Regions from separate parts of the Homo sapiens genome. Here regions 1 and 3 are each linked to region 2. The links come from fine-mapping of genetic effects on gene expression. A gene starts in region 2. Each other region holds a variant in brackets. All regions are shown on one strand. Distances are from middle to middle. Region 1 has its middle 12 kb from the start of LINC00933. Region 2 holds the start of SEC11A (SEC11 homolog A, signal peptidase complex subunit). Region 3 overlaps SEC11A (SEC11 homolog A, signal peptidase complex subunit).

Evidence for each region.
Region 1: its variant is fine-mapped to the expression of SEC11A in whole blood (INTERVAL, PIP above 0.99).
Region 3: its variant is fine-mapped to the expression of SEC11A in whole blood (INTERVAL, PIP above 0.99).

Annotation. Positions count from the first base shown.
Region 1 is chr15:84,554,708-84,562,983 of GRCh38, reverse strand. It overlaps the pseudogene UBE2Q2P1. Among named protein-coding and RNA genes, the nearest start is that of LINC00933, 12 kb to the left of the region's middle. The variant G/C (reference allele first, on the strand shown) is at 4,409.
Region 2 is chr15:84,712,414-84,720,655 of GRCh38, reverse strand. SEC11A (SEC11 homolog A, signal peptidase complex subunit) reads left to right here and starts at 4,517. Exons shown (of 6, transcript NM_014300.4): 1 at 4,517-4,631. The coding sequence starts at 4,581. RefSeq lists enhancers at 3,169-3,732, 3,854-3,963, 3,984-4,103, 3,733-4,298, 4,774-4,843 and 1 more.
Region 3 is chr15:84,688,355-84,696,354 of GRCh38, reverse strand. SEC11A (SEC11 homolog A, signal peptidase complex subunit) reads left to right here. Exons shown (of 6, transcript NM_014300.4): 2 at 4,711-4,820. Among named protein-coding and RNA genes, the nearest start is that of SEC11A, 24 kb to the left of the region's middle. The variant T/C (reference allele first, on the strand shown) is at 4,697.

The DNA of each region.
Region 1 (8,276 bases), 160 kb after region 2:
AATGTCTATTAGTGGGTGAAAGCACATAATGCTTACTTCATTAGCTTTTAAAAAAAATCACATGTAATTGTGTTCTGAAAATACATGTATAGTAATGGCATTTTTGGTATTACTTGGTTTGTGTGATAGAATAAAATATTAGAATTTTATGCTGTTTGAATTAGTTATCTATTGCTCTGTAACAAATTTAGCAGCTTAAAACAACAAACATTATCTCACAGTTTCTGTGGGTCAGAATTCTGTGCAGTTTATCTTGGGTTCACTGGCTTGGTCTCTCACCAGGCAGTGAAGGTGTTGATGGCGGCTGTGATCATCCCAAGGCAGGATAGGGAGAGAATCTGTCTCCAAGCTCACACTGGCAGGATTCACCTCAGAGGCTGCTGGACTGGGCCTCCGTTTCTAGATGGCTATTGGTCAGAGGCCTTTTACAATACCTTGCCATGTGGGCCTCTCCATAGGGCACCTCATCACATGGCAACTGGCTTCCATCAGAGGGAGCAATGGAAAGAGCAGGAGAAGGGTGACCAAAGCAGGCATCGTAGTCTCCTTGTAGCCTCATCTCAGAAGTGATGTTATTACTTTTGCTGTATTCTCTTTGTTAGAAGTGAGTCACTAGGTCCAGGGGTGGAATTTTACAAGGGTGTGAATGGCAGGAGGTGAGGGTGATCAGGGCCATTTAGAGGCTGCCTACCAGTGTTGAAGAAAATTGTTGACTTCTATGAGCTGTAGCAGCAGACAGTGCTATGCAAGGAGAATGGCTGTTTCAGAAGTCCAGCTCCTCACATGAATTTAATGTGTTGCCTTTTCCCCCATACATTTTGTTTAAATCCATGGTCATCTTGCCATTTAGTGGTGTGGTTTAATTGCATATTTGGGTTAGTCTGTATGTAATGTTTAACATAGGTGTCTCTGTGTTAAACAGGAATCCTCTTCATTTTCTTTACCAATATGGTTTGTGGACTATGATGAGCCAAATCTGACATCAGTTCTGGAATGTCTAGAAGATGCTAAGAAAAACAATTCAGTGAGGAAAGAAGCCAAGCTATTTTCTCTTTTCCTCATGAACATTATATTTAGAAATTAAATATTAAGATATGATAAAAACAAAAGCATGATTAATGACTATAATATTAGAGGAATTAAAGTCTGGGTATTTTAAGTCCTTCCAATCTTACTTACTACCTGGATTCTCTTTATTATTTCCCACATGTATAACCTTAGTTTAGATTAGGAATTCAGGATCTCTTTTTCCCTGAATTCTAACCATTAAGCCAAGCAAGCATTTTGGGTAGTGACCACTAGCCAAGGTGGGAAGTAGAAAAAAGACCAAGGTGGAAGTGAAAGGAGAGAAGGGGAGAATGACACCAGAACTAGTGGGAGGGGATTGCCTTTTCTTTCAAGGGTCTGTAAGTCTGCAGTAAAAGTCAAAGGTATTCAAATAGGAAGTTTTGTTCTTGTTTTAGTATATAAAGAAGTACAACTTTCCATGTTGGAAAAATTTTAAAAACCTTTTTTAAATTATAAAACTCATAAGCAACCATTGTTGAGAAAATTAGTAAAGTACAGAAAAGAGAAAAGAAAAAAATTAAAGTCTCCCATAATTTATCTACCTAATATAACCACTATTGACAGTTGACATGATGGCCATTTTCTGCCAGTATATATTTTTTCTTTGCTAGTAAAATACATAACCCTTATACATATGTTTAAATAGTTGAGGTCATATTCTCTATAGTTTTATATTCTTTTTCTTTTTTTTTTGTGACAGAGTCTCACTCTGTCACCCAGGCTGGAGTGCAGTGGCATGATCTCAGCTCACTGCAAGCTCTACCTCCTGGGTTCCCACCATTCTCCTGCCTCAGCCTCCCCAGTAGCTGGGACTACAGGTGCCCACCACCATGCCCGGCTAATTTTTTGTATTTTTTAGTAGAGATGGGGTTTCACCATGTTAGCCAGGATGGTCTCGATCTCCTGACCTCGTGATCTGCCCACCTTGGCCTCCCAAAATGCTGGGATTACAGGCATGAGCCACTGTGCCCAGCCATTTTATATTCTTTTAAAAAGTATTTACTGTATTTTCCCAGGATGTCATAGTCTTTATAGAAAAATAACAATCATTATTTTCAGTTGACATGATTGTTTACCTAAAAATATCCAAAGGAACCAACTGAAAAAAAAATTTTAAGATTACTGGTTAAAAGTTCTTTTATATAAAAATCAATAGCCTTCCCCAATGTTAGCTATAATCACATAGAAGATATAGTGATGAAGTATTTTTTCAGGTATTTCAGCAAAAATTAAATACCTAGGAATAAACTTAGATGTGCAGGGCTTTTATCAAGGACAGGACAAAATTTTGCTGAGTGGAATGAAAGATTTGCATTCTATGTTCCTGGATGAGCAGATTTCATGTTATAAATATGTTAGTTATCACCATGTCTTCATATTAATTTATAAATGTAATTTCTGCTGGGCACAGTGGCTCATACCTGTAATCCAAACAGTTTGGGAAGCTGAGGCGGGTAGATGACAATTAGCTGGGTGTCTGTGGCACACACTTGTAGTTCCAACTACTCATTAGGCTGAGGAGGGAGGATCACTTGAGCCTGGGAGGCAGAGGTTGCAGTGAGCCGAGATCATGCCTGTGAACTCCAGCCTAGGTGACAGAGTGAGACCCTGTCTCAAAAAAAAAGAAAAAAGAAAAAAAAGTGTGTGTATATATACACATTTTGTATTTTATATATATAAATTGTGTATGTATGTGTATATATACAAATTTCAGTAGAAATTCCAGCAGATTTATTTTTGGCACTTGACAAAATGACTCTAAAATTTGTTTAGAAGAGTAAATAATAAAAAATAATAAAGTATAAACTCTTTCAACCAGATATTAAATAAAATATTGTGGACTAGCCCTGGGCCAGACAGATAAAGGTAATGGAAGTTTAAAACCAGAGTCATGCAAATGAGAATTTAGTATAAGGAAAAGGTGGTGTTTTAACTTACTAGTGAAAAGATAGATTATTCTATAAATAGTTTTAGGAGAACTGGCCATTTGAGGAAGTTTGAGTCTTAACTTCAATTTTTGTCAAAATAAGTTGTAGTAGGTTAAAACACATCTATTCTTAAAAATTAGAACGGAACAACATTGGTTTGAAGATGTTTTAAGAGTTAAGGCTGAGGCTGGGCACAGTGGTTCACACCTGTAATCCCAGCACTTTCAAGGCCAAGGTGAGAAGATTGCTTGAGCTCAGGAGTTTGAGATCAGCCTGGGCAACATAACAAGACTCTCTCTCTCTCTCTTTCTAGACATAGATATACATATAAACACACATACACATACAAAATAGAGTTAAGTTTTGTATGGAGAGCCATGAAGATAAGAGGTAAAAATTAAAGGCTTGATGGACACATGTTTACATCTCCAGCAAGGGGGTTGATAGAAAGAATGATAGACATAGCTCCATTACTGCTACCTCCTTTTAGGAAGCTGCTTCTGAATATCTAAAGATAACAGTTTTATAATAGCAGAAATGAGGTTTTTTTCAGTGTCTAAAATATTACATAACATACATACAACATAAACATGTTCAAAACTTAAATGAAGTAGGATATAAATTTGGGCCTAGTGTTTAAAAAAGTAAATGTATTTACATGAAGGAGAAAACAACTCACCTCCCACTCTTAGAGCCTCTGCCAGTTTATCATAACCTAGTTTCTTGAGAGAATAAGCTACATGTCTTCACCTTTTTTCACTGAGCTCATTATACTCTGGATTCTGCCTTCATCGTTGCGCTAAAATTTATCTCCTAGTTGCCAAATCCAGTGGCTCCCCTCTTAGTCCCCAAATTGACCCCTCTGCAGTATTTTGTTAATGTTGATTGTTCCCTTGTTGAAACATTCCTCCGTTCTTAATGTCCACCAATAAAGAGTTGGTTAAATAAAAATTATAGTGTACAGTTTTATAATAGAATATTCTGTTGTAGACCAAAAAAAATGCAGCCAGTCTTTCCATAAGAGCATGTGCAAACTTCTAAGATATATTAAGTAAAAAAGTAAGGCATAAAATATTATATATAATCTGACCCCTTTAGTATACAGTGTAAAAACATCTATGTCTGTGCTAGTTTATACTTGCTTTTTTCTCCCCTGTTGGATACAGGGAACTGTGAATAGTAGAACACAATTAAAAAAGACTGTGTGGCTTCTGTGCCAGGACCTGTGATAATTGGGTATAAAAGACAAAAAAGGTATTTCCCTATCCTCTGGGAAGGGACGTGATAATCAACTGGGACTTTTATCAGATTATTTTCTCCTGTTTTGATCTTATCACCCTGCCTTGGTCTCCTCCGAGCTCTTCTTCCTTGGCCTACTTCTTTCTTCTCTTCTCATTCTGTGCTTTCTCTGA[G/C]TAGTCTTTGACTCCCATTACTTAAGTCATGACCTGTGTTCCAGGGATTCCTAAATCTGTATTCATCTCCAGAGTTTCATACCCATATTTCTGTCTGTATATCATATATGTTAGGGAATCTCACTTGGCATGACGTGGGTGTTCAAGATGATATTTAAATTTTCATGTATCCACCTCCTAGCACCCTATCAGCCCCATCATGTGTTCCATCAATAATTCTCCTTGTCATTGTGAGTGGGACAAAATGAAATAATCAAAGTAGTCACCCATGCCTAAACCTGGGAACTGTCTTAGCGTTCTTTTATATGCTACTGTTCTCTTATCCCCCCAAACTAGTAAATTTCTAAGACCTGTCCTTCTGAATGTTCTTACTATTTTCCCTGTGATCTCAGTTTCTTCTTCCCATCCCTCAAATGCTTTTTGTGTGTGTGCGTGGTGGCGAAGAGAGTAAAATTGAAATTCATGGAAAATGTACTACCCTGTCTTTCTTTCTTTCTTTCTCTCTTTCTCTCTCTCTCTCTCTCTCTCTTCTTTCTTTCTTTTCTTGCAATGAAGTCTCGCCTCGCTCTGGTCACCCAGGCTGGAGTACAATGGCACAATCTTGGCTCACTGCAACCTCCACCTCCTGGGTTCAAGTGATTCTCGTGCCTCAACCTCCTGAGTAGCTGGGATTACAGGCATCTGCCACCATGCCCAGCTAATTTTTGTATTTTTAGTAGAGATGAGGTTTCATCATGTTGGCCAGGCTGGTCTCAAACTCCTGACCTCAGGTCATCCACCCACCTCGGCCTCCCAAATTGCTGGGATTACAGGTGTGAGCCACTGTGCCTGGCCACTACCCTGTCTTTCTTGTTGCTTGGTATGACTCACTAACCTGCTGCCTCTCTCCCACTGCAGTGGGATAATTTAGGAATCCGAGAGACTGAGGGGTTGAGGAGGATATATATTATTATTTAGGTGCACCGGCCCAGTCAAATTAACATCTAAAGGACTGAGCCCTGAACAAAGAGTCAGGTTACCTTTTAAGCATTTTGTGGGTTCGGGGGAGATCTGTGCAAGGGGAAGCATATTACAGAAGCAAGAAACAAAGACAGTTATTCAGTTGAGACATGCATTACATTATTTCTTACTTTTCAAGGAAAAACATGTTTTACAACTTGAGTTTATCTGTCTAGTGACCTTGCAGCTGCACAGCTAGAGAAACAGGGTCTTCACAATGCCTGGGAGAGGAGGAGAGATGAGGTTCACTAGCCTCAGAAAAACAGGCAGTTAATTTTTAAAGGACTCCACCTCTTTTTCTTTCTTAGGGGGAATTCGGTTTTTTTTTTTTTAACAAACAGTGTTTGCTTACACATTCTTTTTTATTATTATTTTTATACTTTAAGTTCTGGGATACATGTGCATAATGTGGAGGTTTTTTACATATGTATACATGTGCCATGTTGGTATGCTGTACCCATTAACTCATCATTTACATTAGGTATACCTCTCCCCTCCCCCCACCCCACAACAGGCCCCAGTGCGTGATGTTCCCCATCCTGTGTCCAAGTGTTTTCATTGTTCAATTCCCACCTATGAGTGAGAACATGTGGTGTTTGGTTTTCTGTCCTTGCGATAGTTTGCTGAGAATGATGGTTTCCAGCTTCATCCATGTCCCTACAAAGGACATGAACTCATCCTTTTTTATGGCTGCATAGTATTCCATGGTGTGTATGTGCCACATTTTCTTAATCCAGTCTATCATTGATGGACATTTGGGTTGGTTCCAAGTCTTTGCTATTGTGAATAGTGCCGCACTAAACATATGTGTGCATGTGTCTTTATAGCAGCATGATTTATAATCCTTTGGGTATATACCCAGTAATGGGATGGCTGGGTCAAATGGTATTTCTAGTTCTAGATCCTTGAGGAATTGCCACACTGTCTTCCACAATGGTTGAACTAGTTTACAGTTCCACCAACAGTGTAAAAGTGTTCCTATTTCTCCACATCCTCTCCAGCGCCTGTTGTTTCCTGACTTTTTAATGGTTGCCATTCTAACTGGTGTGAGATGGTATCTCATTGTGGTTTTGATTTGCATTGCTCTGATGGCCAATGATGATGGGTGTTTTTTCATGTGTCTGTTGGCTGCATAAATGTTTTCTTTTGAGAAGTCTCTGTTGATGGGGTTGTTTGATTTTTTTCTTGTAAATTTGTTTAAGTTCTTTGTAGATTCTGGATATTAGTCCTTTGTCAGAGGGGAAGATTGCAAAAATTTTCTCCCATTCTGTAGGTTGCCTGTTCACTCTGATGGTAGTTTCACATTCTTTAATTTCTTTTAATTCCTGTTTCACCCCAGCACTCCTGTAGCCCCTTCTGTGCCAGAGGTCAGAGTGTGCAGGTCTGTGTCCAGATCACCCTGCCTCATCTTCATTATATACTTAGCACAAAACAGAGCACATTGCGTGCATAATGAATCCACACTGGGGCTTGGCTTCCTTTTAAGCATGAGGATTTTTGGTGTATCCTAATTTACGGTTCAACCTTCCTGTTTCCACTTGCTTCATTGTTCACTTTGGGAAGGCTTATTCTTTGCTTTGTTAACCCATTCTAATCCTGTGTCTTCTTACTTTGTCATTTGTAAACCTGCTTCTTTCTCTTCATCTCTTTTCTTGGTCAGAGACACCCAGAAAATTGTTCCTGACCAAGTGAAGTGAGTGCTTATTAGATCCCATATGAGTCACCTTATACATTAAAAAACATTTTAAACAATGAAAACCACACTTGTGCACATAGTTTACCTTGCTTATTTCCTTAAAGTAAACAATCTTACAATACAATTTGGACTTAAACATGGAAACTTACAGTTATTTTTTGCAGTTTCCTAGTGAATGATTATTTTTTAGACAGACACTTAAGAGCCTACTAAGTATCAAGTGTTTTACAGGTTTCATTTAATCTTTACTATTCCGGGGAAGTTTTCATTTCCTTGTTTTACAGATGAGTACACTGAAACTCAAGGAATTAGATATGATATCCAAGGTCATCTAGATTTCCAGGCTCTGTCTGCTGGATCACATTTGCTTTTGTACTTTTAACTATGACTGGAATATATAATTTTATAATCCATGTGTAACAATACTGCCTGTGTGTGGTTTTTTTTCTTTTTCCTTTTTGGGTCACCTCATTAATGCAGTAATGTTCTCTTGTTTGAAGTTGTAAGTTTCTAAGAAAACAAGGTAGCAATGAGAAATTGGACAATGTCTGGAACTTCCTTCCTCTGCCTTTATTGTTGTCATTCCATTAGGTATCAGTTGTAGTGATTATACACCAAGCCATAGTAACTTTCTTAAACTAGAGGCTCCTGAAAATATTTCAAAGAGTTTTTTAAAATATCTGTAAGCTGCAGTTGAGCAGTAACAAACTTTTTTATTTCCTACTGGATTGATTGCAGTAGTCATACCATTATTGATGTCTTCTCAGTGCTCTTTAACATAATGCTTATTTACTGAAATGTGTTTTGTAGCTTCATCAGCAATGGAAGTGGCTGATATGTGGACTCTGCAGATTATATAACCTTCCTAAGCACCCGAATGTTGAGATGCCAGATCAACCACTACCCATGGGTCAGGTAAAGTAAAAATTCTGTAGTGTTCAAGAGCTAAAATAAATTGTCTCAAACAAAAGTCAAACTAGGATGATTTTTTAAAAATTATTCAACTTATTTAGAAGTTAGTTTTTCTGTTCCTATTGAATTGTTTGTTCTGTTTTAGATACTAAAAATAACATTTTCATTCTTTGGAACTGCTGGTATTTAGTATGGCAGGCAAACAATTGCCCTTTTCCCTAACACCAGCTTTTTGTTGTGAATATTCCTGGGGTCCATAAA
Region 2 (8,242 bases):
AATTTGTGTATCAGTTTGAACCCACTTCTTGTTTTGAATAATTATTAAATTCTTTGTCCACTTACCATTTGTCATCCATTGTGACAACAGCTTTATTTATTTATTTATTTATTTTATTTATTTTTTGAGATAGAGTCTCTCTTTGTCGCCAAGACTGGAGTGCAGTAGCACAATTATGGCTCACTAAGGGATCAACTTTCAGGACTCAATCGATCCTCCTGACTCAGCCTCCCGAGTAGCTGGAACTACAGGCATGTGTCCCCACACCTGGCTAATTTTTAAAATTTTCTGTAGAGATGAGGCTTCCACTATGTTGCCCAGGTTGGTCTCGAACTCCTGGGCTCGAGTAATCTGCCCACCTTGGCCTCTCAAAGTATTGGGATTACAGGCGTCAGCCACCATGCCCAGCCCCCAACAGCCTTATTTACATGTACTATTTTGTTAAATCCTCAAATGACATAAATTCTTTTCTATTCCTACTTTACACACCAGAAAACTAGGGATTAAAAAATTGCTAACTGAGTTGGGCATGGTGGCATGCGCCTGCAGTCCCAGCTACTTGGGAGGCTGAGTGGGAGGATTGCTTGAGCAATCTAGGCTTCAGTGGTCTAGGCTTCAGTGAAGGGTGATCACATCACTGCACTCCAGCCTGGGTGACAGAGTGAGACTCTGTCTGTAGAAACATTAAATTAAATAAATTTTTTTGGAAAAAGAGTTAACTAATTGGTCCAAGATCAAACAGCTGGCAATTGATCTGTGATTCAAAGCCAAGTGGGTCTAACTTAACTTCTATACTAAGATGCTTCCTTCAGGGGGGCCAGCAGGCTCTCTGTAAAGGAAAATGCCAGACATAACACTGTGATTGACAGGGCCCAAAAGACTTATGTGTCAGAAAGATTGCCATCCCAGTCGGCAGAGAAAATAGCATGTCAGAGTCCCACATTTGGAAAATTGAATTCCTTAGGCTTTATATCAAGTCTGGGATCACCTGTCCTAAATATCTGAATTATTTTCATAAGAGACACCGAGCAGTATAAGAAACCTCATTAAGCCTTTGCAGATCCTCCTAGTTTATATCACTCTCCCCTGGTCCCGTTCCTTTCTCATGCATTCTTTTTTTTTTTAAGACAGAGTCTCACTCCATTGCTCAGGCTGGAATGCAATGGTGTGATCTTGGCTCACTGCAACCTCTGCCCCCCGGGATCAAGCGATTTTCCTGCCTCAGCCTCCGAGTAGCTGGGACTACAGGCACCTGCCACCATGCCTGGCTAAGTTTTGTATTTTTAGTAGAGACGGGGTTTCACCATGTTGGCCAGGCTGGTCTCAAACTCGACCTCAGGTGATCCATCTGCCTCGGCCTCCCAAAGTGCTGGGATTACAGACATGAGCCACCGTGCCTGGCCTAATTTTTAGTTTTAGTAGAGCAGAGGTCTCACTTTGTTGTCCAGGCTGGTCTTGAACTCCTGGGCCAAAGGGATCTTTCCCCCTTGGCTTCTCAAAGTGCTGGGATTACAGGCGTGAGCCACCGTGCCTGGCCTGACACCCTTTTTAAGCTCCCCACAAGCCTCCCCAACTGAACTGACTTTTGCCACATCTGAAACTCCACAGGACTTTACGCCTCTCTTAGGGCTCTTTTCTACACATTACAAGATTGATACTCATTTAAATAGTTGCTGGCGCTCACTTTTAGATTTGAATTCAACATTAATAGGCATAGGCCAAGGGTTCTACTAGCGAGAATTTAGACTAGAACCCATATTTAACATTTATTAACAAATACTTATTGAGTGTCTGCTACATGTCTGGTACTCTTATGGAAGCTGGAGATAAAGGGGTGGACAAGACAATGTCCCTGTCCTCATGGAGTTCACATGTATTTTCTTCCACAAGTCTTCCTAAATTGGATAAATTAGGAATTTTTTTTCAACTCAATAAGTGTGGGGTGCCTAGAGGCAGCAGTTTTTGGAGGTGACAAAAATACACACACACACACACACACACTTTTAAATTCAACAAGTATTTATTGGGTATAACATGTGCTAGGCTATGTGTTCACCACTAGGAATTTAACAGTGAGCCAGACACCAGTGGTTTCTTTTTCTTTCTCATAATAGCTTTATTGTGATATAATACACATACCATACAATTCACCAGTGTAAAGTGTACAATTTAATGGTTTTGAGTATATTCACATAGTTGTAGAACTAGCATCCCCTAAAAGAAACTCCATACCCATTAGCAGCCACTCCCCATTTTCCCCAACTCTCCCAGCCCTAGGCAACCACTGATTTCCATCTCTGTGGATTTGTCTATTCTAGATATTTCACCTAAATGGAATCATGCAATGCTTTGTCTTTTGTGACTGGATCCTTTCACTAAATCTGTTTCAAGGGTCATTCATGTTGTAGTATTTCCTTTTGTTGCCAGATTAATATTCCATTGTACCAGCGGAATTATTAGTACATTATTCCAATATACCACATTTATTTATCCCTTCATTAGTTGATAAACATTTCAGTTATTTCCACTTTTTAGCTATTATGAATAATGCTGCTGTGAACATTCATGTACAAGTTTTTGTGTGGACAAACGTTTTCAATTTTCTTGGGTATATACCTAGCAGTGGAATTGCTGGTTAATATGGTGATTCCATCTTTAACCTTTTTTTGTTTGTGTGTTTTGAGATAGGGTCTCACTTTGTCGCCCAGGTTGGAGTGCAGTGGCACGATCTCGGCTCACCGCAAACTCTGCCTCCTGGGTTCAAGCGATTCTCCTGCCTCAGCCTCCCCAGTAGCTGAGATTACAGGTGCCCACCACCACACCCGCCTAATTTTTGTATCTTTAGTAAAGACGGGTTTTCACCATGTTGGCCAGGCTAGTCTGGAACTCCTGACCTCAGGTGATCTGCCTGCCTCAGCCTCCCAAAGTGCTGGGATTACAGGCATGAGCCACTGCAGACGGCACATCTTTAACCTTTTGAGCAACTGCAGCTATTTCCCAAAGTGGCTGCACCATTTTACATTCCCACCAGCAGTATATGAGGGTTCCAATTTCTTCACATCTTCCCCTAAACTTATTATTATTTGTCTTTTTTATTACAGCCATCCTCCAATAAATTCAAGTTTTTATTTTGGAATGACTTTCCATTTAAAGAATTTCGAGGATACTACAAAGAGTTCCAGTATATCCTTCATTCATCTTTCCCTAATGGGAGAGAAGGATTATTTTGAAAAAAAAAAAAAAAAAAAAAAAAGAGAGAGAAATGATACCAAGTAATCCAGCTTTAGTCTTTGTTGACTGAAGTGCGTATTAGGAGCTTTGGCCAGTCAAAGCAAAAGGTAGCGAAAAGATAGTCACTTCAAGGTGTCCAAGTTAAGAAAACCAGGAGGTAGAATTCAAGGAGACCATGTCAAATCCTGTCAGCAAAGTCAAGGTCAGAAAGGAAGCCACTTCCTAACGACCCACACCACTGGTGGTCTCATCACGCTGTTGCACCATTTGGATGTTTTCTAATTCTCCCGGGCTGTTTTCTCTCCAATTGGACTGTAAACTCCTGGCAGGCTCAGGCAGTGCTCGGAAGGTCTCTCACACGGTCCAACCTTACGCGAAAAGCACTTATTGAAAGCACCTCGATGGCCGGGCGCGGTGGCTCACGACTGTAATCCCAGCACTTTGGGACGCCAAGGCGGGCGGATCACCTGAGCTCAAGAGTTCGAGACCAGCCTGGCCAACATAGTGAAACCCTGTCTCTACTAAAAATACAAAAATTAGCCAGGTTTGGTGGCGCGCGCCTGTAGTCCCAGCTACTTGGGAGCCTGAGGCAGGAGAATCGCCTGAACCCGCGAGGCGGAGGTTGCAGTGAGCTGAGATTGCGCCACTGCACTCCAGCCTGGGCGACACAGTGAGAAAGAAAGGAAAGAGAGAAAGAGAAAGAAAAAGAGAAAGAGACAGACAGACAGAAAGTAAGCAAGCAAGCAAGCAAGCACCTCAACAGAGACAGAGACGTAAAGAAAGAGAGACAGAGACAGAAAGAAAGAAAGCACCTCCTCAGCTTCCCATAGCGCAGGAGACTTGCTCGACCAGAGAACCTACGGTCAGACGACACATCCACTGCCACACCCATACCCAAGCCGGGACGCGGAACCGCTTCTACCCGCCCACACCGGAGAGGTTGCTCGCGATTGGCCGGGCGGGCACAGAGGCCCGCCTTCCGAAGGTGGCAGAGCAGCCTCCCCAACTAAGCCTGGGTCGCCGCCTCGGTGAAGGGCCGCGGGGCCGAGCGCGGGAAGTGGCGTCCAGTCGGTTTTTGGCAGGCGAGAGCCAGAGCGTGAGAACCCTCCCACGGCGAGGCCAAGCCCTGAGACTGGACTAGCAAGGTCGTGAGTCTCTCTGTCAGCTCTCCGCAGCGAAGGGGCGCGGGGGGCGGGGACCGTGCCCGACCGTGCCAGCTCCCGCCCCGGAAGCGGAAGTGCAAGCACTGCGGGGTCCTGTCCAGTGTGAGCCCGACCCGAGCTCCAGTAGTTCCGCCCGCTGGTCATCGCGCCCTTTCCCCTGCCGGTGTCCTGCTCGCCGTCCCCGCCATGCTGTCTCTAGACTTTTTGGACGATGTGCGGCGGATGAACAAGCGGCAGGTGAGCTTGTCCGTCCTCTTTTTCTCCTGGCTCTTCTTGTCCCTTCGAGGCTGCTGCTGCGGGGCCCGGCGGACCCCAGGGTTCTGGTGTGAGGGTCTGAGCTGGTCTGATACCCGGGTCATTCGCTTTCTTTGGAGACTGTGGCCAGAGGCCGCCTTGTCCGCCTCATTATTTTTAACCCCGAACTGATTCAGGGCCTACCGGGGGCGGGGCGGGAAGCGGTGTCTTCACGTTCCATTCCTCCCACTGAGGCAGGGGAGCAAATGGAAACCGTACGCGCTTGAAGTGGGAGTTGGGGTTGCTTATTGTTTTAGTCATTTTAAGGCGGCGGACTCTTGATTTCTCCAGTCGGAGCGACTCCAGGTGGTTTCGGGAGAGACGAGGTTTAGCCGGTTTCTGGGGCGCTCAGGAAGGCGATTGGAGGCCCCACAAAAACCGTTTTGCTGCTTTCAGCTCCTTGCAACCCTTTAGTAGAGCTGAACCGTAGCGGGCTGCACCGACTTTGACTTGGACCACTCTGGGCTCCGAGTTGGAACAGTTACACTACTTGCCCTTGCGTCCGCTTAGCACTAAGGCGGCAGCCCTCGGAATCTATGGTTTTACAGTCCAATATCAGTGCCACGGGGATCTGGAAATGTAGGTCTCCTGATTTTGTCCTTACACTTTACTTTGATCTTCTAGATCGTATGCCAAATAGTACTGAGAATATTGTTGTAATTATTTAGTCCTTAGAAAAGGTTGTTCTGTTTTATCTTTTGCGCCTAGTGTGTCTGTAGAGCCTAGTTTTGCTGCATCGGACTTTTTTTTTGTTTTAAACAGTATTTTACTGTTATGATTATCCTGATGTCACCATTAAGGATTTTTTTTCCTTGGACTTGCATTTTTTGTACTTATAACTGCCACTTAGGGAAGTAGATACACAACCTTTCCTTACTCCCCTTCAGGCCTTAGCTAGCTCAGTGTCAATTCTGTCAGTCAGAATTGAGCATTCTATAAAAATTGCGCAAACGTTACTTTATGTCTTTATGACAACACTTCAAATTTTTACTTGTATAGTGTTGTCTTTTTTTAATCCATATTTGGATTTCTAGATGCCACAGATATTTCTCTGAGGAAAGTATTTATTTTGAGTCTGATATTTATTGTACTCTATGCTAGGTACAATGAGAGAAATGCAAAGATAGTTAAGAAAGACTCGGCCTTCAAGGAGCCTAAATGTGTAGAAAAGGACTAAGGCAAAACAATAACTTTTTTGAGCTCTTGCCATGTGTGAAGCACTTTATACACCTGTAAGGTAGGTAACGTTGTTCTTATTAAACATGAAGAAAATGAGACTTTGTGAGAAGCAATACAGTATAGAAGTTAAGAATATGGACTCTAAAGCTAGATTTCAGAGGTTTGAAGTAGCTCTGCTACTTACTGGCTGTGTGACTTTGAGCAGATTACTTAACCTGTCTGTGCCTATGTTTACTTTTATTGTTGTAAAAAGATATGCAACATAAAATATTCCATTTCAACCGTTTTTACGTGTATACTTCACTGACATTAGTTGCATTCACTATGTTGTGCAAACGTAGGGTCGCTATGAAGATTAAATGAGTTAATTCATATAAAGCCCTCAGAAGAGTGTCTGGCACATGGTGAGTATTGGCTGTACTGTGGTCGATGTCATTGTTAGAGAGCTTTAGTGATTTGCTTAAGACAGAAGGTAGACTGGGTGCGGTGGCTCACGCCTGTAATCCCAGCACTTTGGGAGGCTGAGGCAGGCGGATCACAATGTCAAGAGATTGAGACCATCCTGGCCAACATGGTGAAACCCCCTCTCTACTAAAAATACAGATACTAGCTGGGCCTGTTGGCGCACGCCTGTAGTTCCAGCTACTCAGGAGGCTGAGGCAGGGGAATCGCCTGGGAGGTGGAGATTGCAGTGAGCTGAGATCGTGCCACCGCACTCCAGCCTGGTGACAGAGTGAGACTCCGTCTCAAAAAAAAAAAAAAAAAAAAAAGAAGGTATATGGCAGGATGTGGATTTGATCTCAGGTCTTACTTTAAAGCCTGAACACTTGGATAAAGAAGGATATGACCTGTTCTAGCAGTGGTAGGAAAATTTTGAGAGGTTCCAGTCAGGGCATTACGAACAGCTTCAAGGAGAAACTAGCATTTAAGTTGGATCTTGAAAGACCTTAATAGCTTCATCTTTAACCTGGGTTGGTTAGCATTCCAATAATCAAAAGGGAAGGAATTCACTCAGCACTTGCAAACCTGCTAGATAGGCTCTAAAGCATAGAGATATATAAGGTACTCTTCCTGCTCTAATAAAATGGACAGGAAGAAAGAACAGAAACATGAAGATACAATGAATAGGCTACTCTGCCCTGTGTTTCTCTAATATGGAGTGATTGTGGTTCAGAATTCATTGCATCTAGGACATTCAGGGTTAGTGGAAGTTTAAATGGTAAAATTATCCTCCCTGGCCTCCCAGAGGTTGTTAGGAATGGATAGGAGGGATTGGATAACATGGGGTGAGGGAGAGTTATGAAATGAGATCTTTATCTGTACATAATATCTAGGAGGAAGAATTGACAATACATGTAGATACTGAGAATCAGACGAAAGAGGGAAACTAGAATTTTGTTTTATTCCTCTAAAAGTTGCTATTATTTGCATAACTTCTCTGCTTATACCTAATTACATATTACATATATGTTAAATGTCTGATTGCTTTGAGTTTTTGTTTTTTTTTTCTTATCAGATCCACAGAGGAATACTTTAGTAAATGAACTCCATCCATTTAAAGTGTACCATTTGATAAGTGTTTTTTTTTTTTTTTTGAGACGGAGTCTCACTCTGTTGCCCAGGCTGGAGTGCAGTAGTGCAATCTTGACTCACTGCAAGCTCCACCTCCCAGGTTCACGCCATTCTCCTGCCTCAGCCTCCCAAGTAGCTGGGACTACAGGCACCCGCCACCACACCCGGCTAATTTTTTGTATTTTTAGTAGAGACAGGGTTTCACCATGGTCTTGATCTCCTGACCTTGTGATCCGCCTGCCTCGGCCTTCCAAAATGCTAGGATTACAGGCGTGAGCCACTGCTCCCGGCCGGCCGATAAGTTTTTATACTTACGTATACTGATCACAATCAAGATATAGAACGTATATATCACCTACAAGACCCGTTCTGTCCCACCTCTAATGTGCTTTTTGTCAGTATAGAGGGGTATGCATTTTATATAAATGGAATCATAGAGTATGTATTCTTTGGAGTTTTAATCAGTTTTTAGGCTGGACGCAGTGGCTCATGCCTGTAATCCAGCACTTTGGGAGGCCGAGCAGGTGGATTGCCTGAGCTCAGGAGTTCAAGACCAGCCTGGCCAACATGGTGAAACCCTGTCTCTACTAAAAATACAAAAATTAGCCGAGCATGGTGGTGCGCACCTGTAATCCCAGCTACTCAGGAGGCTGAGGCAGGAGAATTGCTTCAACCTGGGAGGCAGAGGTTGCAGTGAGCCCAGATCGCACCACTGCACTCCAGCCTGGGCGACAGAGCAAGGCTCTATCTCAAAAAAAAAAAAAAAAGAAAAAAAAGAAAAGAGTATGTTTCAGTTTTGTAAG
Region 3 (8,000 bases), 24 kb after region 2:
CCCACTCCACGTCTTCAATTCAGCCTTCAGAATAAGAAGACCCATTTTGTCTTTTAAAAAGCCACCATCTTGAAAACATAGAATTTAGGAGGCCAGAGTTCTAATAGTGCTACTCTGCCAGCCAGTAGACAAGCAGCCATGAGCATGTCGCTTAGCTTCTCTGTGCCTCAGTTTCCTTACCTGTAAATGTGAGTGTCAAAGTAGGTTTCAGATTATCCATGTGCTCACATCACTCTATTACTGAAAGAACAGCAAATATTTCTAATTGTCTCGGCGAAAATGTTCATATTTCCTTTTGTGGAAATTGATTAATTACATTGATTGAGTACACCGTGCTTCATTGGAATGCTAGAAGAATAGTGTTCTGGCCATTAGCGTGGACTTAAAAAAATAAACCAAAACAGTTTAGTTTTGAACAGGTGATACTTGCATATAGTAAAAACTGTAAAAACATGAAGTATGTATATCAGAAAATATTTTTCTTCCACCTTGACTCCTGGTTCCTTTTCTCCAGTTTCTTGTCTGTCTTTTCAGAGATTAACTGTGCATTTATAAGAATATGAAACTTGATCGCTTCTCGGCCTTTTGGCTAAGATCAAGTGTGAAGAATATGAAACTTGAAATGTTTTTAAAAAGTATGCAGGAAAAACAGGTTAATTGTAGGGAGAAAATAGAAAATGGTACAAGAGAGCTGGATTCCTCATCACAATTGTATTTATTTTTTGAGACACAGTCTTGCTCTGGCACCTGGGCTAGAATGCAGTGGGGCAATCATAGCTCACTGCAGCCTTTACGTCCTGGGTTCAAGTGATTCTCCTGCCTCAGCCTCCAAGGAGCTGGGACTACAGGCATGCACCACCACACCCAGCTAATTTTTCTTTTTTTTTTTTTGAGACGGAGTTTCGCCCTTGTTGCCCAGGCTGGAGTGCAATGGTGCGATCTCGGCCCACTGCAACCTCCGCCTCCCAGGTTCAAGCGATTCTCCCACCTCAGCCTCCCGAGTATCTGAGATTACAGGCATGTGCCACCAAGCCCAGCTAATTTTGTATTTTTAGTAGACATGGGGGTTTCTCCATGTTGGGCAGGCTAGTCTCGAACTCCCAACCTCAGGTGATCTGCTCGCCTTGGCCTCCCAAAGTGCTGGGATTACATGCGTGAGCCACCGAGCCCAGCCTCTGGATATTTTTTTTTAATCATCCGCATCTCTATTTAGTGTGCTAAATTTTCCTCTACCTTCTTTTTTTTTTTTTTTTTTTTTTTTTTTTTAGATGGAGTCTTGCTGTGTCGCCCAGGCTGGAATGCAATGGTGCGATCTCAGCTCACTGCAACCTCTACCTCCCGGGTTCAAGCAATTCTCCTGCCTCAGCCTCCCGAGTAGCTGGAATTACAGGCACACGCCACTGCGCCTGGCTAATTTTTGTATTTTTAGTAGAGATGGGGTTTCACCATGTTGGCCAGGCTGGTCTTAAACTCCTGACCTCGTGATCCGCCTGCCTCGGCCTCTCAAAGTGCTGGGATTACAGGCGTGAGCCACTGCACTCGGCCTTTTTTTGTATTTTTTTTTGTAGAGATAAAGGTCTTGCTTTCTGGTCTCGAACTCCTAGGCTCAAGTGATCCTCCCACCTCAGCCTCCCAAAGTGTTGGGATTACAGGCATGAGTCTCTGTGCCTAGCCCCTCATTGTACATTTTGAACATCATGCATTAACACCCTAGTATGAAAGTAAACAAACAGTTTTTAGAGTGGTTGGGGTAAACACCAGAATGAATAGCTAGAAGAGATGAAAATGGTTGATGTAGGTGGCCTGCCATGGCTAGGATATTGCTTTTTTTTACATATTCTTGTATGTATGTGTGTATACTGTTTTGATTAAAAATAACAATTGATTTAAAAAGGGAAGTAGAAAATGTAGATGATCAAAATGAAATAAATAAGAATTGCCTAGTATTACACCCCCAAATATAACAACTAACATTTATTTTATTTTCTTCCTTTTTTTTTTTGAGAGAGTCTTGCTCAGTTGCCCAGGCTGGAGTGCAGTGGTGCGATCTCAGCTTACTGCAACCCCCGCCTCCTGGGTTCAAGTGATTCTTGTGCTTCAGCCTTTTGAGTAGCTGGGATTACAGGCATGTCCCACCACACCCAGCTAATTTTTGTGTTTTTAGTAGAGATGGGGTTTCGCCATGTTGGCCAGGCTGGTCTCCTACTTCTGGCCTCAAGTGATCCACCCACCTCAGCCTCCCAAATTGCTGGGATTACAGATGTGAGCCACTGCACCTGGCTTCTTCCATATTTTCTATGCATTTTTTGGAATTTTTCAGAAAAAATTGAAAAAACAGTACAGGGAACACCTGTAATCTGTCACACAGATCCAACAATTATTAGCATTTTGGCCATATTTGTTCTATGTATACTTATGTGTGTGTGCATATATAGAATTTTCTTTTGCTGAATCACTTGAAAATGAGTTGCAGATATGAGAATTCACCCCTAACTACAACTACTAGCTAACTACTACTAATATGCATCTCCTGTGATAAGGATAGTATTCCACATAACCACAACACCATTATCACATAATTTAAGAAAATTAGAGGCCGGGTACAGTGGCTCACATCTGTCATCCCAGCACTTTGGGACGTCAAGGCGGGTGGATTGCTTGAGGCCAGGAGTTTGAGACCAGTCTGGCCAGCATGGTGAAACCCCGTCTCTACTAAAAATACAAAAATTGGCCGGGCGTGATGATGCATGCCCATTGTAATCCCAGCTACTTGGGAGGCTATGGCACGAGAATCACTTGAACTTGGGAGGTAGAGGTTGCAGTGAGCTGAGATCATGTCACTGCACTCCAGCCTGTGTGATAGAGCAAGACCCTGTCTCAAAAAAAAAAAAGAAGAGAAAAAAAGAAAACATGAATTTCCTAATGTCATTTAATATTCAAATCATATTTTGAGTTTCCCCAGTTCACCCCAAAATATTCAGATTTTTTCTTATGCTTTTTTTTTTTTGAACCAAGATCCAGCCAAAGTTTGTGCATTATTAGAACTGAATGAGAAGAAAAAAACAACAAAGAAACCAAAGTTTGTGCGTTACATTTGGTTGTTATATCTCTTTAGTACTTTTTAATCTAGAACAGTCTTCCACCTTTTTTTCCATGACATTGAATGACATTGGATTTTTGAAGAGACTAGGACAGTTGTGTAGAATGTCCACAAGCAAATATTAACAAAAGTGACCAGGCATGGTGGCTCATACCTGTAATCCCAGCCCTTTGGGAGGCTGAAGTAGGCGGATTGCTTGAGCCCAGGAGTTCAAGATCAGCCTGGGCAATATGGCGAAACCTCATCCCTACAAAACATACAAAAATTACCACGTCTGGCTACTCGGGAGGCTGAAGTGGGAGGATTGCTTGAGCCCAGGAGTTGGAGGCTGCAGTGAGCTGTGATTGTGCCACTGCACTCCAGCCTGGGCAACAGAGTAAGACCTTTTGAAACTTCTGTTTTTTCACTTTATATTACTAATATTTTGTTAGATCCACAGTTTCAGTCCTGTGTTTAAGTTTCTTCATAGTTGGACCTTAATATATGCTTTTTCAGATTTCTCCCAGTACTTTCCAGTACCAGCTTTTTCCTTGAACTATTTGCCATGGTGTCTAGTCATCCTCTCTATACTTTTTCCAGCCTTGGCCCAAAACAGTTAGCTCACATTATTTATCTTATCTGATTTTGTAATATTTTTTGCCTTTTTCCACGTGTTCTGAATTTTCTTTATTTGAAATTGAAATGCCGTCTGGTGTTTTATCTGTTTATTCAAGTCACAGAATTTTAGAGTTTGTTGGAGTACTGGAAATTTAGTAAGAAGGCTGACCTTCAAGTCTTGACTATGTGACTGATAAGCTTAGGACTTGGTGAAGTCTCCTCTTTTCGAGACAGTTTCCTTAACTGTAAAATGAGAAGGTAGAGTTAAATGTCATTAACTATTCCCATGATTATCAAGGGATAAGTATAGTAGAAAAGTAATAGAGGGCCGGGTGTGGTGACTCACGCCTGTAATCCCAGCCCTTTAGGAGGTGGAGGTGGGCAGATCATTTGAGGTCAAGAGTTCGAGACCAGCCTGATCAACATGGTGAAACCCAGTTTCTACTAAAAATTCAAAAAAATTAGCTGGGCGTGATGACGCATGCCTGTAGTCCCAGCGACTCGGGAGGCTGAGGCAGGAGAATTTCTTGAACCCAGGAGACAGAGGTTGCAGTGAGCTGAGATGGCACCACTGTACTCCAGCCTGGGTGACTGAGCAAGAGCGAGGCTCCATCTCAAAAAAAAAAAAAAAAAGAAAAAGAAAAAGTAATAGAGGAGTTCAGAAGCAGAGACAGATTACTCTTGGCTGGTAAGTAGCATGAGTGATAAATTTAAGCTGAATGATTATGGAGCCCAAATGAAATAACTTGTGTGAAATGTTCTTAAAATAATATGGTGTTATATAAATGTAACTGATGTTTTACCAAACAAAATGGAGCAGGGTGCTTTGGGTGAAAGAAGGGGGGCCTGTTTTGATCTGCTGATGGCATAATTATTATAATGTATTAAAGAATGTCTCAGAACTGTAGTTGTCCTAATAGTACTGCTTGAAACTTTCAAATTGTTACTGCTTTCAGTTGCTTTCCGAAGTGGGGATAATGGTGGATCTGATCTCTTCTG[T/C]TTTGTTCTTGCAGCTCTATTATCAAGTCCTAAATTTTGGAATGATTGTCTCATCGGCACTAATGATCTGGAAGGGGTTAATGGTAATAACTGGAAGTGAAAGTCCGATTGTAGTGGTGCTCAGGTAACAGTTTTTCCTTTCAAGGCATGGAATTGCATGGCATTACTTGGGAGAAAAATTGAGATATGAAATAACTGGCATATCATTCTCTTAGAAACTACTCTTTTCCAGAAAAGGGCCTGGAAGAAAATTAGTCACTACTTATCAGTTGTAAGAAATTCTCAGGCTGGGCACGGTGGCTTATGCCTGTAATCCCACCAATTTGGGATGCTGAGGCCGGTGGATTACTTGAGCTATGGAATTTGAGACTAGCTTGGGCAACGTGGTGAAACCCTGTCTCCACAAAAAATACAAAAATTAGCGGGTGTGGTGGCATGGACCTGTAGTCTCAGCTACTCGGGAGGCTGAGGTGGGAGGATCACCTAAGCCCTAGAGGTTGAGGCCTGCAGTGAGTTGTGATTGCACCACTGCACTTCAGCCTGGGTGACAGAGCGAGACCCTGTCTCCAAAAAAAAAAAAAAAAAGAGAGAAAAGAAATTCTTACTTTGTTAGGCATTTCCATTCAGAACTCCAAAGGGCTCATGACCTTTCTACAAAAAAGTTACCATGTTAAGGTTTGTTTTTGTCACATCCCTTAATAAAGTGTCTCGTTGTACTTTATTTTCCTGAAATTCTTCTGTCTTTTTATATTCCTCATTTTGATACACCAGGCCTGATATTTAGTTGTTAGTTCATTAGATGTTATAGTACTTCCACAAATTAAGAGTTTTTCTGTAGCATGTTCTCAATGTCAGGATAGAATCATCACTAATTATTTCCAAGTTTCCTGCTGACCTTTAAATATCACTTCTAAACTAGACTCCAGGAATTTTGAAGGCATTAATACCATCTCTTATGGTGACAAATAGTACTGAATTTTTTTTCTCCACTCTGCTTCCTTCCCTATCTTTGCACTCATACTCTTAGTGAATATTTTTTTTAAAGATGGGGTCTCGCTCTGTTACCCAGGATAGAGTGCAGTGGCGCCGTCATAACTCACTGCAGACTCCACCTACCGGTCTCAAGGGATCCTTCCATTTTAGCCTCCTGAGCAGGTGGGACTGCAGGCCTGCCCCACCATGCCTGGTTAATTTTTTAATTTTTTTGTAGAGACGGTGTATTAGTCCATTTTCATGCTGCTGATAAAGACGTACCCAAGACTGGGCAATTTACGAAAGAAAGAGGTTTACTGGACTTACAGTTCCACGTGACTGGGGAGGCCCCACAATCATGGCAGAAGGTGAAAGGCAGGTCTCACATGGCGGCAGACAAGAGAAGAGAGCTTTTGCAGGGGAACTCCCCTTTTTAAAACCATCAGATCTCGTGAGACTTATTCACTGTTACTAGAACAGCACAGGAAAAACCTGCCCCATGATTCAGTTACCTCCTGCTGGGTCCCTCCCAAAACACGTGGGAATTCAAGATGAGATTTGGGTGGGGACACAGCCAAACCGTAGCAGATAGGATCTCACTGTGTTGCCCAGTCTGGTCTTGAACTCCTGGGTTCAAGGATCCTCCCACCTTGGCCTCCCAACATGCTGGGATTACAAGCATGAGCCACCATGCGCAACCACTCTTAGTGATTTTAAAACCTAATTTAGTAACTCATTTTTAGAGAATTACCACTTGGTTGTTTGACTGAAACATTATAGGCTGGGTGTGGTGGCTCACACCTGTAATCCCAGCACTTTGGAAGGCCAAGGCGGGCAGATCACTTGAGGCTAGGAGTTCGAGACCAGCCTGGCCAGCATGTTGAAACCCCATCTCTACTAAAAATACAAAAATTAGCTGGGCGTGGTGGCAGGCGCCTGTAGTCCCAGCTACTCAGGAGGCTGAGGCAGGAGAATTGCTTGAACCTAGGAGGCGGAGATTGCAGTGAGCGGAGATCGCTCCATTGCACTCCAGCCTGGGTGACAATTGAAATTTTGTCTCAAAAAAAAAAAAAAAAAGAAAGAAAAGAAACATTACAGTTTTGTCATATTTTGGGCTTAATTTTGTAAGCCCAGATCTTTTCTGGAGATAATGGAGTGCATATTTAAAATAAATGGAATTATTAATATTATCTAGAATCTAAATAATAGTGCATTAACATTATCTAGAACCTAAGTAATAGTACTTAGATTACTCTTTTTTAACCAAATTATCGAGATATGATTGACATACAAAAAGCTGTACATATTTAATGTATACAACTTGATCAATTTGCAGGTAAGTATATTCCTGTGAAACCATCATCACAATCAAGCAAGTGAATATATTCATCACTTTCAAAAGTTTCTTCCCTTTCTATTTTTTTGTGATAAGAACATTTAACACAGGGCCTCCCTCCATCGCCCAGACTGGAGTGTGCCATCACACTTGGCTAATTTTTTTTTTACAGAGACTGAGTCTTGAACTCCTGATCTCAAGTGATCCTCCCCCCTCAACCTCCCAAGTGCTGGGATGATAGGCTTGAACCATCGTGCCTGGCCCCCAGTTTCTTTTCTTTTCTTTTTTTTCTTTTCTTCTTCTTCTTTTTTTTTTTTTTTTGAGACAGAGTCTCACTGTATTGCCCAGGCTGGAGTGCAATGGCGCAATCTCAGCCCATTCAACCTCCACCTCCTGGGTTCAAGTGATTCTTCTGCGTCAGCCTCCTGAGTAGCTGGGATTACAGGCGTGCGCCACCATGCTCACCTAATTTTTGTATTTTTAGTTGAGACTGGGTTTCACTGTGTTGATCAGGCTGGTCACGAACTCCTGACCTCAGGTCACCTGCCCACCTCGGCCTCCCGAAGTGCTGGAATTACAGGTGTGAGCCACCGCACCTGGCTGAGATTTTTTAAAAGTCCCTCAGGTCATTCCAATGTGCAGCAAAATTTGAGACCCACTGCCATATCCCTTTACATAGAGGGAAGAGAGTCTTTAAACAAAAGTGTTTGGAGTTTGTACTTATTCCTGCGTTGAACTTTATTTCTTGTCTTTCTATTCTTACTTAAGCTGTTGTTATAGAAAACCGGAGCTTGAGTTTCTGAAAAAGACTGATGGGCTACTTCTTTATAGATAAAAAGGGGTTCATAAATTAGTGCAAATATCTTAGGACCTTTTCAGCACTTGGCGTAGGATGGAAGAGGTAAGAGGTAAGAAGATACTCTGTAGAAGTTAGTCTTACTTGTTACCATGGAATTGAATCTTTTCCTGGCTTCGGAAATTCTTAGGCAAAAATCT